3 linked regions of the Homo sapiens genome follow. The protein of the gene in region 1 interacts with the protein of each later gene in a biochemical or structural test. Each region holds a gene or a part of one and is shown in the gene's direction. Other genes may lie near its edges.

What was found. Proteins that work in one complex are often made in the same cells at the same time.
Region 2: the proteins of FBP1 (region 1) and HIF1A form a complex in vitro, tested with the Homo sapiens proteins (one study listed by IntAct).
Region 3: the proteins of FBP1 (region 1) and NOTCH1 form a complex in vitro, tested with the Homo sapiens proteins (one study listed by BioGRID).

What each region holds. Positions count from the first base shown.
Region 1 is NC_000009.12:94,618,456-94,623,746, reverse strand, and holds part of FBP1 (fructose-1,6-bisphosphatase 1), read left to right. Parts: intron 1-3,255; coding exon 3,256-3,418; intron 3,419-5,291. UniProt on the Homo sapiens protein: Catalyzes the hydrolysis of fructose 1,6-bisphosphate to fructose 6-phosphate in the presence of divalent cations, acting as a rate-limiting enzyme in gluconeogenesis. Plays a role in regulating glucose sensing and insulin secretion of pancreatic beta-cells.
Region 2 is NC_000014.9:61,736,913-61,741,400, forward strand, and holds part of HIF1A (hypoxia-inducible factor 1-alpha), read left to right. Parts: coding exon 1-197; intron 198-1,174; coding exon 1,175-1,461; intron 1,462-3,592; coding exon 3,593-3,715; intron 3,716-3,842; coding exon 3,843-4,276; intron 4,277-4,488.
Region 3 is NC_000009.12:136,500,161-136,504,648, reverse strand, and holds part of NOTCH1 (neurogenic locus notch homolog protein 1 preproprotein), read left to right. Parts: intron 1-1,318; coding exon 1,319-1,467; intron 1,468-2,160; coding exon 2,161-2,377; intron 2,378-2,560; coding exon 2,561-2,648; intron 2,649-2,735; coding exon 2,736-2,901; intron 2,902-3,801; coding exon 3,802-4,097; intron 4,098-4,488. UniProt on the Homo sapiens protein: Functions as a receptor for membrane-bound ligands Jagged-1 (JAG1), Jagged-2 (JAG2) and Delta-1 (DLL1) to regulate cell-fate determination.

The sequences.
Region 1 (5,291 bases):
CTGGTGAATATTTGTAGAATAAATGAGCACTCAGATAGCTGTCTAGGAAGATTTTGAGTAAAAGAGACCACATGGCCTGAGTGTTCCTGAGGGAAGTGCCTGAGCAGATGGGACTTGGGCCAAAAGGTAATATAGGACTTTCCTTCTGCACCTGCCTCAGTGCCTCATCCGTGTCCAGTGCCTTCGGCCCCTCTGCCCAGCCCTCCCGGCCCCCCGAGCTGTCCCTGTCAGGCTGCACCTATTAGTGCTAGGCCTTTTGTGTATGTCATCTCATGCAATCCTCTGACAGCCGCGTGGGGGCAGACTTCACTTCCCTCTTTGGACACATGTGAAAGGGAGGGAGGCTCAGAAAGAGCAGGGGAGCCTGGGAGCTGAGGCCTGGACCTGGTCTCTGCCTTGAAGCCCTTCTTCTGGTCCATCGGTGCTATTTGCCCTCCGGAATCAGAAGTGAGTTTGACAGTGGGCTGGGCACGGTGGCTCATGCCTGTAATCCCAGCACTTTGGGAGGCTGAGGTGGGTGGATCACTTGAGGTCAGGAGTTCGAGACCAGCCTGGCCAACATGGTGAAACCCTGTCTGTACTAAAAATACAAAAATTAGCTGGATGTGGTGGCATACGGCTATAGTCCCAGCTACTCAGGAGGGTGAGGCACGAGAATCGCTTGAACCTGGGAGGCGGAGGTTGCAGTGAGCCGAGATCACGCAACTGCACACCAGCCTGGACAACAGAGTGACACTGTCTCCAAAAATAAAAATAAAAATAAAAATAAAAATAATCATAAAGTGACTTTGACAGTGCAACTCTCAGGCTGGAAAGGAGAGAGCACTGCTGCTAGTGGGGTCACTGAGGGAGCTGCATTTGAGCTGGTGGGCCCTGCCAAGTCCCTCTGGCCTCCCAGATTTTGGCTGCCTTCTTCCTGCACAAGCCCCAGCCTCACAATTGGGGTCAGAAAAAGATCATGTGGAAATAGGATCGAAAGCCCAGGGACATGGGGTGGAGCTCAAAGCTCGATAGACATCTTGGTCTTTTACTCATGAAATAGGAGTGATGGGTGAAAAGAGAAGCAGCAGGAGGAGGGCTGGTGGGATGAGATGTGCTTTGCAGGCTGGAAAGGGAATGATGCCAAGAGTGGCTGAAAGACGCTGACAGGCGGGCCCGAGAAGACAGCCGGAGCTAGCTCCTGAGATAGTCAGGCCGGACCAGGCATGTGGGTTTGGATGGTTTCTAGGAGGGGCTCAGTTTTGCCCAGCCAGTCACAGCGAGTTATGTTTTGGGCAAATGCACTTGCAGGAGCTGAAGCAGTCACGGCCACTGGATCAGGGACCGTCAGTTCCCAGGCGAGCGCACATCGCCATCATGGCCAAGGGCGCGGGTGTGCCCTTACCACCCACTTTCAGAGGCTTGCTGGTGTCTTCAAAGACCCATCTTTTCCCCTTCCCACATCAAGGCTCTCGCCTTGCTCTGTGCATCCTTCCTGTGAGACGTCTCCCTCCTTTCTGTGTTCAGGGCAACCCCAGGCTATGACAACCTGCCGCTTCTGTAAGTCTAAGAAGCTAGGCTGCGTTTAGACAAGCCACTGGATTCTGGGAATTCTATAATTACTGACTTGCAGGTTGCTTAAAAATAGTGAAAACTCCAGGATCCCTGCAACTTCCATGCCCTAGGACTCCTGCCAGGGGCCCAGGGTGTCACCAAGAGAGCCCTGGCCTGGGAGTCATAGGCAGGGTCTCGCCTCCACCCTCTGCCTGGGAGTCATAGGCAGCGTCTCACTTCTACCCTCTGCCTGTGTGGAGAAGTCCACAGGAGTCTTGGGTCTGAGTTTTCTCCTCTATGAAATGAGGCAGAGGGGCCGGTTGATGCTTTGTTTCTTTTAGGGTCTTTTTAGTTATAAAGCCATAAACCCCTTGGCTTGGCTCGCAACTCAGGCTACCCCCGACCCAGGCTTCCTTGCTTGCTGGGTCTCTCTATTGATTCGTTTAACCCGTGTGTTTGGGGGCCAACACTGGTTCTTTCTGGGCAAAACCAAAAACACCCGCAAACTTTTTATGTAAAAAGCACTGAGACACATACTGCAATAAACAGATATCTACTATATCTGTAGTATTAAAAATATTTCATGGGGGAGTATGGTTGAGGAAAAAATGTTCTAAAAAGCTCCCTAGGGGAATCATAATGAAAACAAAGTTAAGAAACACTGATTTAACCACAAAAGTGTGCAGGGCACCATGACAGGTTCGAGGTGAAGAGGCAGATGATAGTATCTCCTCCTCTCTAGGGTCTGTCCAGACCTTCCTGCCTTGTTCTCCCAAGCTGATGTCCTCCTTCCTTTCTTCTAAAAATATATATATTTTTAGACGGAATCTTGCTCTGTCGCCCAGGCTGGAGTGCAGTGGTGCGATCTCGGCTCACTGCAAGCTCCACCTCCCGGGTTCACGCCATTCTCCTGCCTCAGCATCCTGAATAGCTGGGACTACAGGCGCCCGCCACCACACCCGGCTAATTTTTTGTATTTTTTTTTTTTTTTTTTTTTTTTGAGACGGAGTCTCGCTCTGTCGCCCAGGCTGGCATGCAGTGGCACGATCTCGGCTCACTGCAAGCTCCGCCTCCTGGGTTCACGCCATTCTCCTGCCTCAGCCTCCCAAGTAGCTGGGACTACAGGCACCCACCACCACACCCGGCTACTTTTTTGTATTTTTTAATAGAGACGGGGTTTCACCATGTTAGCCAGGATGGTCTCGATCCCCTGACCTCATGATCCACCCGCCTCAGCCTCCCAAAGTGCTGGGATTACAGGCGTGAGCCACCACGCCCGGCCCTTTTTTAAAAAAATTATTATTATACTTTAAGTTCTGGGATACACATGCAGAATGCGTAGGTTTGTTACATAGGTATAAACATGCCATGGTGGTTTGCTGCACCCATCAATCTGTCATCTACATTAGGTATTTCTCCTAATGCTCTCCCTCCCCTAGTCCCCAGCTCCCTGAGAGGCCCCAGTGTGTGATGTTCCCCTCCCTGTGTCTATGTGTTCTCATTGTTCAACTCCCATTTATGAGTGAGAACATGTGGTGTTTGGTTTTCTGTTCCTGTATTAGTTTGCTGAGAATGATGGATTCCAGCTTCATCCATGTCCCTGCAAAGGACATGAACTCTTTCTTCTAAATCTTACCGAACACTCACTTTTGGTGGGTTTATGGACTCATCTACATGTTCTGGTGGTCATGGCTTATTTTTTGTGGCTTTTGTTCCCTGTAGCTATGGCATTGCTGGTTCTACCAACGTGACAGGTGATCAAGTTAAGAAGCTGGACGTCCTCTCCAACGACCTGGTTATGAACATGTTAAAGTCATCCTTTGCCACGTGTGTTCTCGTGTCAGAAGAAGATAAACACGCCATCATAGTGGAACCGGAGAAAAGGGTGGGTCTGTACTTCCACCATTGAGGGTTTTAATGTAGCCGGTCTTCTTCCCAGCTTCATAATTGACTCCACTTGTTCAGCTGAGCTGGGTTTCTGGGAGTCCCTCTAGATCCCTGCTGTGGTCTTTTCATAGCTTCCACCTCACTGCTGCCATCTCTCGAATCCTCCCTGAGCCACTGTGCAGATGAGTGTTGTGGCTCACGCCGCCTTCTCCCCAGTGGACTCCCACAAACTCATCTCCATTTCTAACTTTTTATTGCCATGTTTAAGGCTCTTCAAACCCTGGCTTCTGTTGGTCACCTCTTGTACTACATCCCTATCCACCAAATTCCTGACCTTCACACTGACCCTCCTGTTGACCTAGACTGCTTGAAACTTCCATCCCTGATGCACGCATTGGAGTCCCTATTGGTCTGTCTCTGCTTCTTTTTTTTTTTTTTTTTTTTTTTTTTTTGAGACAGTGTTTTGCTCTTGTTGCCCAGTCTGGTGTACAGTGGTGTGATCTTGGCTCACTGCAACCTCCGCCTCCTGGGTTCAAGCGATTCTCCTGCCTCAGCCTCCTGAGTAGCTGGGATTACAGGTTCCCGCCACCACACCTGGCTAATTTTTGTATTTTTAGTGGAGATGAGGTTTCACCATGTTGGCCAGGCTGGCCTTGAACTCCTGACCTCAAGTGACCCGCCCACCTTGGCCTCCCAAAGTGCTGGGATTACAGGTGTGAGCCACCACACCTGGCGTTATCTCTGCTTTTTGAGAGCAGAAAATGAATCTTATTTGTCTCTGTGTCCCAGTGTCTAGTGCAATGCCTGGCACATTGGAGGGCCTCAACAACAAATGACTGTTGAAAAAGATTGTTAAATGAAAGAGTATTCCCAGCTTTTATAAAACAACAATTGTAATTAGAAAAAAAAACTTCTGAGATTAGAAGTGCAGTTATATGGGCTTACTATCTTTCCCAGTTTGAGAGGAACTGGGAACATGAAGGAGTAGAATTAGGAAAAAACAATGAGAAGATGAAGAGGCTGCCTGTCCTCACCCTATTAAGAGGGCAGGAGCCACATCTGATGAAGTTGTTTTTCATCATTCCTAAAATAGCCGTACATGCCAGACTTGAAGTTCATGTTTTTCTCAGCTGGGCCTTTCAAGGTCTTTGGCAGCTTTAGGCGTATGGCTTAGATTTGTTGTTTAATATTCTCCATCACTCACGCCGGACTTCTCTTGTCTATCATGGGCCTTCATGATAGGCAGCTTCCTGTGTTCCAGTTTCCAGTTCCTCCTGCATTAGTGAGGGTGGTCTGTGAAGAGCAAGAGGGCAGGGAATCATGTTAATCTGCTACAGACATTTAAAAACGACATTGTAAAGTGGCTAATTTGGAGATGGAAAACTCCCAGTGATGTGCTGGTAAACTGGGTCTCAAAGCAAACAAACAAGTCTCTGATATGTCCACTTGCCTCTGTCAATGGTGTGAATACTCTCCCATCGTTGATTTTAAGCTACCAATGTGATATCACTGAAGGCAGAGTTGGGAAGAGATGTGCACCGTTAGCTCCTGAGAGCCGATACCAGCCAGCTCCTGCACACCACTGAAAATCCCACTCAAAACAGGAATCTGCGGTATTCCCACTACCACTGAAAGTTATCTACTTTGGGAATTACGCTAGAAATTTGTTTTGTTTAGTTTTGTTTTTAGAGACAGGGCCTCATTCTGTCACCCAGACTGGAGTGCACAGTCATGGCTCACTGCAGCCTCGAACTCCTGGCTCAAGTGATACCTCCTGTCTCAGCCTCCTGAGTAGCTGGGACTACAGATGTGCAGCATCATGCCCAGCTAATTGAATTTTTTTTTTTTTTTTTTTTTTTTTTTTTTTTTTT
Region 2 (4,488 bases), on another chromosome or scaffold:
TTTCTCCCTTCAACAAACAGAATGTGTCCTTAAACCGGTTGAATCTTCAGATATGAAAATGACTCAGCTATTCACCAAAGTTGAATCAGAAGATACAAGTAGCCTCTTTGACAAACTTAAGAAGGAACCTGATGCTTTAACTTTGCTGGCCCCAGCCGCTGGAGACACAATCATATCTTTAGATTTTGGCAGCAACGGTGAGTAGTTATTTTTGTTAATCCCCTAAATTGTGTCTGTTGCTACAAGCCCCATTTCAACTAAACATTACTTTACGGTTTTTGTTGGTAATCATTTGGACATTACAAGCTAATATATGTTTATAGTTTTCTTAAATGTATTTGCTTAAATATTTTTGCCCCCGTAATTTCTTACCATTCTTGCTTTTTTATACTGTTGGAAATTGTGCTTCAAAGTGTCCTTAAGGTATTTCTTCTTCCCACATAAATTTTTCCTGGCTACTCTATTTCTGTATCCTGCTGTCAGATTTTCTCCACAGTTTAGCAGAGTTATATGGAAGTAGGCATTGTTGCATTAAAGGATAAAAAAGTAGTCATACTATAACATCAAGCATTGAAGATGAAAACTGCAATTTTAAAGTAGAGAACATTTTAATGTATAAAAAGGTTGGTATTGCCTTTTGTCTTTTATGCCATAGAGATTAAGACGCGGTATCAATAGTGGATTGTAAAGGTAACTCAGACTTATGGTTATACTATACTATTGTATGTAAACTTTCTGATGAAGGAAAATTTGGTGACATTTTGTTGTTTGATGAATTAGACAAACCTTTTGTGAAAAAGAACATAAATTTTTTATATGTGAAAATCCTTGTGGCCGGGCGCAGTGGCTCACGCCTGTAATCCCAGCACTTTGGGAGGCCGAGGCGGGTGGATCACTTGAGGTTAGGAGTTCGAGACCAGCCTGGCCACCATGGTGAAACCCCGTCTCTACCAAAAATACAAAAGTTAGCTGGGCGTGGTGGTGTGCGCCTGTAATCCCAGCTACTTGGGAGGCTGAGGCAGGGGAATTGCTTGAACCTGGGAGGCAGAGGTTGCAGTGAGCCAAGATTGCGCCATTGCACTCCAGCCTGGGCAACAGAGCAAGACTCTGTCTTGGGTAAAAAAAAAAAAAAATCCTTCTATACTTTAGATTGACTCATATTTTTTCCCCACAGACACAGAAACTGATGACCAGCAACTTGAGGAAGTACCATTATATAATGATGTAATGCTCCCCTCACCCAACGAAAAATTACAGAATATAAATTTGGCAATGTCTCCATTACCCACCGCTGAAACGCCAAAGCCACTTCGAAGTAGTGCTGACCCTGCACTCAATCAAGAAGTTGCATTAAAATTAGAACCAAATCCAGAGTCACTGGAACTTTCTTTTACCATGCCCCAGATTCAGGATCAGACACCTAGTCCTTCCGATGGAAGCACTAGACAAAGTTCACCTGAGGTAGGTGTCATGATATAATCAGAAAGGGACAACTTTCAGATTTTAACATTCAAGAATGTATTTATAAGTTTGATTCAAACACTTATTTGAACCACAAATTACATTTGTGTGTGTGTTTGAATTTTAGCACTTTAAAATTATTGCAAGAGCTACTGCCTAACCTAGACCTGAGCACATGTTTTAGGCTCAAAGATAGTCAGGAACATGGGAAGAAACTAGCTTAATATAAACCAAAAGGTGAAACGTACATTGTTTCTCTATTATTTATATCAGTAGGACAAAAACATCTTGAATTTGGACATTTAAAGAGAATAGTACTAAGTGTGCTCAAGGTAGCTACAGCCTATACCTGTTACCCCTTTTAGTTTGTTTTATTGTGTTTTGTTTTGTTTTGAGAAAGAGTCTCACTATCACCCAGGCTGGAGTGCAGTGGTGCAATCACAGCCTCAACCTCCCAGGCTCAAATGATTCTCCCACCTCAGCCTCCCAAGTAGCTGGGACTACAGGCCTGCATCACCATGCCTGGCTAATTTTTTAACCTTTTTTTGTGTGTGTGTGTGGAGTTGGGGTTCTCACTATGTTGCTCAGGCTGGTTTTAAACTCCTGGGCTCAAGCGATCCTCCTGCCTTGGCCTCCCAAAGTACTAGGATTACAGGCGTGAGCTACCATGCCTGGCCCATTACCCCTTTGAGTTGGAGAACTGTCTGGTAGCAATAGACTTACGAGGGTTTAAATGGGAAAGGACCTTATAAATTCTTTGCCCAATTTAGTCTAATTTCCATCACTATTTTGAAATTTTGGGTAAGTATAATATGAAAATAACAAGTGTTACATAAAATAAATACTTAGTAACTGGTCTTTTTTATTCTGGATCTGTCTTGATATTAATTGTCCTATGAACACAAAAATAATCTTTAAAGGCTAGGCTGGCCAAGACTTAGAGATATCACACAGGGCTCTATTTCTAAATCTAGAATGATTCCATTTTAGGGCTTCCTACATCTAAAAATATGCTCAGGAGTAGGGCAACTTAGATCTGAACATTATAACTTGATAAATGAGGCATAAATAAGCTTTAATAAGTGGTAAATAATTCTACATTAGGTATTTGTTGAATAAAACTGACAAGCTAAGAGTAGGGGATTTGACATCTCACAGCCTTGTGTTGAATGAATATATATCCTATGCTCTGGTTGCTTAATTTACCCAGAAAAAAAAATGTTTGATTCATCTTGGTTTTTATCTAACAAAAGTAAATCTAACAAAAACGTTAGAATGAGGAAAGCAAAATTTCTTGTTTAGAATACACAGCTATAGTTTTTTGTTAAACTTCTTGCCCAGAACTCTTAAAATAGTAATAATGTACATTCGTTCAGGTATATGCAGGTAAAATAACTTAGGTTTCTACTCCCACCCCCGACAGTAACAGTGAGATTTTTAGGTAGCTCAGTCACCACAGGAGTGTGCCTTCTCAGTTCAAAGGTAAATTCCAGTGAATGTAGCATCTAGTTAATTGGTCAATTAGGTACCATTGTGGGATGTGAATTACCAAATAGGTTTTATTCTTTAGAATAAGGTGTTTCTTTTCATCTCAATTTTGTAAATGATGTTATATTACATAGTCAGAAATATATATATTGGCAAAATTAGTTACCAGTATAAGCTTCAAAATGTCACTATTTTCACAAATTTTTTTTTTTTTTTTTTTTTTTGACATGGAGTCTCACTCTGTCGCCAGGCTGGAGTGCAGTGGCATGATCTTGGCTCACTGCAACCTCTGCCTCCCAGGTTCAAGTGATTCTCCTGCCTCAGCCTCCTGAGTAGCTGGGATTACAGGCGTTTGCCACCATGCCTAGCTAATTTTTGTATTTTTAGTAGAGACGAGGTTTCACCATGTTGGCCAGGATGGTCTCGATCTCTTGACCTCATTATCCCTCCACCTTGGCTTCCCAAAGTGCTGGGATTACAGGCGTGAGCCACTGAGCCCGGCCTAGTTAAATAAAATTTGATAAACACGATGGACTTGGTTGTGTGTTTTCTGGTTTTTCTGAGATCTAGTTTGAAAATTCTGACAACTAGCAAAGTATATGGAAGCTTCTTCAGGAAATAGTAAACATATTTCTTTTTACAGCCTAATAGTCCCAGTGAATATTGTTTTTATGTGGATAGTGATATGGTCAATGAATTCAAGTTGGAATTGGTAGAAAAACTTTTTGCTGAAGACACAGAAGCAAAGAACCCATTTTCTACTCAGGTATATGAACTTATTTGTTTTATATTAAATTTCATTAATTTTTAGTCTGAAGTGACTTTGAGTTTCACTTGTTTTTTATTTATAAGGTGTGGCCATTGTAAAAACTCATGTATTTGCTGTTTTAAAGGACACAGATTTAGACTTGGAGATGTTAGCTCCCTATATCCCAATGGATGATGACTTCCAGTTACGTTCCTTCGATCAGTTGTCACCATTAGAAAGCAGTTCCGCAAGCCCTGAAAGCGCAAGTCCTCAAAGCACAGTTACAGTATTCCAGCAGACTCAAATACAAGAACCTACTGCTAATGCCACCACTACCACTGCCACCACTGATGAATTAAAAACAGTGACAAAAGACCGTATGGAAGACATTAAAATATTGATTGCATCTCCATCTCCTACCCACATACATAAAGAAACTACTAGTGCCACATCATCACCATATAGAGATACTCAAAGTCGGACAGCCTCACCAAACAGAGCAGGAAAAGGAGTCATAGAACAGACAGAAAAATCTCATCCAAGAAGCCCTAACGTGTTATCTGTCGCTTTGAGTCAAAGGTATTTATATGTAACATTCAAGTTATAGTTCTTTTATTATTTTTGAGATAAATGTATGTGATAGTACATGATTTTTAAACTTATAGCAAACTTTCTGATATATATGCCCTAACGCAAATTCTTGAGAACTCAAAAAACTTTCTAAATTAACCTCATATATTTTTTCTTTTTCTTTCTTTTTTTTTTTTTTGAGACAGAGTCTCGCTTTGTCG
Region 3 (4,488 bases), about 42 Mb from region 1:
TCAATCCCCGCAACTCTCCTGGGCCCTCCCCGACGGCCTCCCTGCCCCTCACGGCCGGCGCCATGGCAAGCAGTACTCTCCCCACTTTATGGTAAAAGAGACGGAGGTTCCGAGAGGACCTGGGACTTCAGGGCCTGCGCAGGCAAGGAGTAGAGGCAGCATTCCAGCTCAGGGCCCTGACCCCACAGCCACACCCTTTTCCTGGGCCACTGCCTTCCCCTGGACAGGCGGCACTCCTGTGCCCAGTAGGTGATTTTGAGATTGAGCTGTGCCTTAGGCACTGGATACTACACTGATTAAAACTCAGCCCTCTGCCAGGCGAGGAGGCTCACACCTGTAATCCCAGCACTTTGGGAGGCTGAGGCAGGCGGAGCCCTTGAGCCCAGGAGTTCGAGACCAGTCTGGGCAACATAGGGAGACCTTGTCTCTGTTTTTTTTAAAAAAGTATTAAAAGAAGTAAAAAACAAAACACTCAGCTCTCCAGGGGTTCCCACAGGGCTGAACAGCCCCACCCCAGACAAGAATGCCGCTTGGTCATGGCGTCTGCCTGGCTTGGGCTGGAGAGGAGGCAGGTGGAGGTCCTGGGAGGGGGCATTGCTGGGCCTTGCAGTTGGAGGAGGAGCTGGTGGGGGTGGGGGGTCCCACGGTGGGAGAACACAGGCAGGAGCAGCTTGAGTGCAGGGGGCACCCCACAAGGCTCCCGCCCATGCCTACTCGATCTGGGGCAGCTGGACCCAGGAGCCAGGTTGGTTGTGCCCTTCGTGTGCCTGACCCTGGTGGGTTTGCCTGTCAGTTCTGCTGGCTTGGAGCAATCCTGGAGGTCAGAAGCATCATCTCACAGGCTGGATGGGATCCTGCTCACGGGAACCCAGTCCTGGGGAGCAGAGCTCACCCCCAGCCAGCCTCACCACACAGCCCACCACCGCTGCACCCACCCCCACCTCACGCCTGTGCTTCCTGCAGGGCCTGGGGATGGCTCCTGGGGGAGGACTGGGCTCCTGGCACATACTCTGTCCTGAGATGAGGAAACGTGTCTGTGGCACCAGCAGGAGCCAGAGAGGGTGTCAGGGCGGGCCAGGGAGAGCGCGTTGGTGGGTATCTGGGATGAGCCGTGATCAGCACTGGCCGGAGTCGGGGGGCTGGCACCAGTCCCCTGCAGGGTAGCTGCTGTCAGACCTGGCTTCCCACCACCCCAGGCTGCCTCACCATGTCCTGACTGTGGCGTCATGGGCCTCAGTGTCCTGCGGCAGCATCCCTGGCCGGTGGGCGGGGGAGGAGGAAGCCTCGGGTCCCAGCCCCTCTCTGATTGTCCGCCCAGCTCCATCGTCTACCTGGAGATTGACAACCGGCAGTGTGTGCAGGCCTCCTCGCAGTGCTTCCAGAGTGCCACCGACGTGGCCGCATTCCTGGGAGCGCTCGCCTCGCTGGGCAGCCTCAACATCCCCTACAAGATCGAGGCCGTGCAGAGTAAGTGTGGCCCCATCCCGGGAACAGGCTCTGCCTGCAGGGGGTGCCATCCCCCCGTGCCCCAGACACGCTGGCTGTTTGTGCCAGTTGCTACCCACGGGTGTGAGCGTTGCCGTCCGAGTTGGGGTAGGGCTTTTCTGGAATTTTCTGAATGGCACTCCGCCCCCACCTGCGGCGGTCACAGCTGCCGGTGGAGCCACCTGGGAACGAGTCCAGCCACGGGAAAGTGGGTGCCTGCTTCTCTCCCCACCCTTTCCTCCTGAATTTTCTTTGTTGGGTATTATTTCAAAATCATTACGGCTTTTTTTAAAGAAAAAAAAAGAGAGAGAGAGAAGAATTGATCGGTGTCATGTGAAGTGTTGAAGTTTGTATCTTGAAAATCCCTCTAAATCCTTTGTCTTAACAGCTCAGTGCGAGTGCAGCGATTTGAAGTTGACTAATCCTCCTTCCTTAAAGGAGAAAAAAGTAAAAGCCGTCTCCAGATAGAGTCGGCTGGTGCAGGAGAGAATTTAGCGATAGTTTGCAATTCTGATTAATCGCGTAGAAAATGACCTTATTTTGGAGGGCGGGATGGAGGAGAGTGGGTGAGGAGGCGCCCGGACGCGGAGCCAGTCCGCCGCCCCCCGGCCACCAGCCTGCTGCGTAGCCGCTGCCTGATGTCCGGGCACCTGCCCCTGGCCCCCGTGCCCGCAGGTGAGACCGTGGAGCCGCCCCCGCCGGCGCAGCTGCACTTCATGTACGTGGCGGCGGCCGCCTTTGTGCTTCTGTTCTTCGTGGGCTGCGGGGTGCTGCTGTCCCGCAAGCGCCGGCGGCAGCATGGCCAGCTCTGGTTCCCTGAGGGCTTCAAAGTGTCTGAGGCCAGCAAGAAGAAGCGGCGGGAGCCCCTCGGCGAGGACTCCGTGGGCCTCAAGTGAGCGGACGCCGCCCCTGCTTCTGGGTCCCCGGTGGGAGGTGGGACCTGGCCGAGCATCCTCACCGGGAGTCTGCCCCTCCCGACCCAGGGCCCACCTCCCACGCCAGGCCCGGGCCAGGGGTCTCTGGGGGCTTCCTAGGGAGCTCGCTCAGCCTCACTTCTCGACCCCTCACCCCCCAGGCCCCTGAAGAACGCTTCAGACGGTGCCCTCATGGACGACAACCAGAATGAGTGGGGGGACGAGGACCTGGAGACCAAGAAGTTCCGGGTGAGTCGCGAGGCTCCCGGGCTCCTGGGCTCCCGGGCACCTGCTGCCGGGCTGCCCTGACAGGCTCTGCTCACTCCCTCTATGTAGTTCGAGGAGCCCGTGGTTCTGCCTGACCTGGACGACCAGACAGACCACCGGCAGTGGACTCAGCAGCACCTGGATGCCGCTGACCTGCGCATGTCTGCCATGGCCCCCACACCGCCCCAGGGTGAGGTTGACGCCGACTGCATGGACGTCAATGTCCGCGGGCCTGGTAAGGGTGCCAGCAGCCAGGGCTTCCCTAGCCCCGTGGCCCACCTGCCTCTCTCCCCTAAGCCCCGAGGCTGGGGTACAGTTGATACTCTGGAAACTTAGAATTGGGGGTGAGAGCTTTCATCCTTGGGGTGTTTCCCATTCAGAGTAGACGTGGGGGGGTCCTGGAGTCCTCCTGTTCTTCCACCAACCCCTTCCTGGGGTGATACCGCAGGGCCACTCTGTCCCTGTAAATTACTCTTTTCTGAAACCTTCTTGAGACATGGAAAGCGTTGATTTTCTTTTTCTTTTTTTTTTTCTTTTTTTTTTGTTTTTGAGATGGAGTCTCGCTCCGTCACCCAGGCTGGAGTGCAGTGGCACGATCTCGGCTCCCTGCAACCTCCACCTCTCGGGTTCAAGCAATTCTCCTGCCTCAGCCTCCCCAGTAGCTGGGACTACAGGCGCCTGCCACCACACCTGGCTAATTTTTGTATTTTTAGCAGCGATGGGGTTTCACCATGTTGGCCAGGCTGGTCTCGAACTCCTGACCTCAGGTGATCCGCCCACCTCGGCCTCCCCCAGTGCTAGGATGACAGCGTGAGCCTCCGCATCCTGCTGAAGCATTAATTTTCTAACTGCATGCTTCTGGGGTCCTCTTTTTCCTGGGTGGATTTTGGGTGCCAGGTCTTGGGCAGGTCAGGAAGCAGTTGCCCGCCAGGAGTTTAAGCTGGATTCGGCTCTGTCCACTGAGCAGCCCAGGCGGACTTCAGCTGCCCCTTGGTGGCTGTGTGCACGGGGCCACCAAGTGCTGGGTGGTGCATCCACACCGTGGCCCCTTGAGCTTGGGGCTGCTGCCCCCCTCCCCCTGGGCTGCAGCTGGGGACCGGCCCTCCAGACTGAGCACCCGTCTCTGCCTCTGCAGATGGCTTCACCCCGCTCATGATCGCCTCCTGCAGCGGGGGCGGCCTGGAGACGGGCAACAGCGAGGAAGAGGAGGACGCGCCGGCCGTCATCTCCGACTTCATCTACCAGGGCGCCAGCCTGCACAACCAGACAGACCGCACGGGCGAGACCGCCTTGCACCTGGCCGCCCGCTACTCACGCTCTGATGCCGCCAAGCGCCTGCTGGAGGCCAGCGCAGATGCCAACATCCAGGACAACATGGGCCGCACCCCGCTGCATGCGGCTGTGTCTGCCGACGCACAAGGTGTCTTCCAGGTAGGCAGTGGCTGCCTGTGTGCCCACCTGCCCTCCTCAGGGCCGCCTGGTGGTCTGGGGCAGTGGCCAGGCTTACGTGGCCCTGGGAGCCTGACCCCGAGCACAGCTGAGTCCGGGACAACTGGTGCCTCCACCTGGGACCTTCGCAGTCAGCGAGGTGCGAGGGGGAGGGCGTCGGGCCCATCTGTGTTCTCCAGGGAAGTCAGGCAGAGGCGGGTCTGGCAGGAGGCCTGGGGGATCTGCTGAGTGAGGCAGCACCTCCCCACCCCCAGCAAAACAGGCTCCATCAGGGTTGTGGGCCTTGCTCAAGGTCCAGGTTCCACTGCTGCAGCCCCTCGCAGCCCCGCCCCTCCCTCAACCTTGGCTGCCGGCGTAGCCTGTGGCAGTGAGA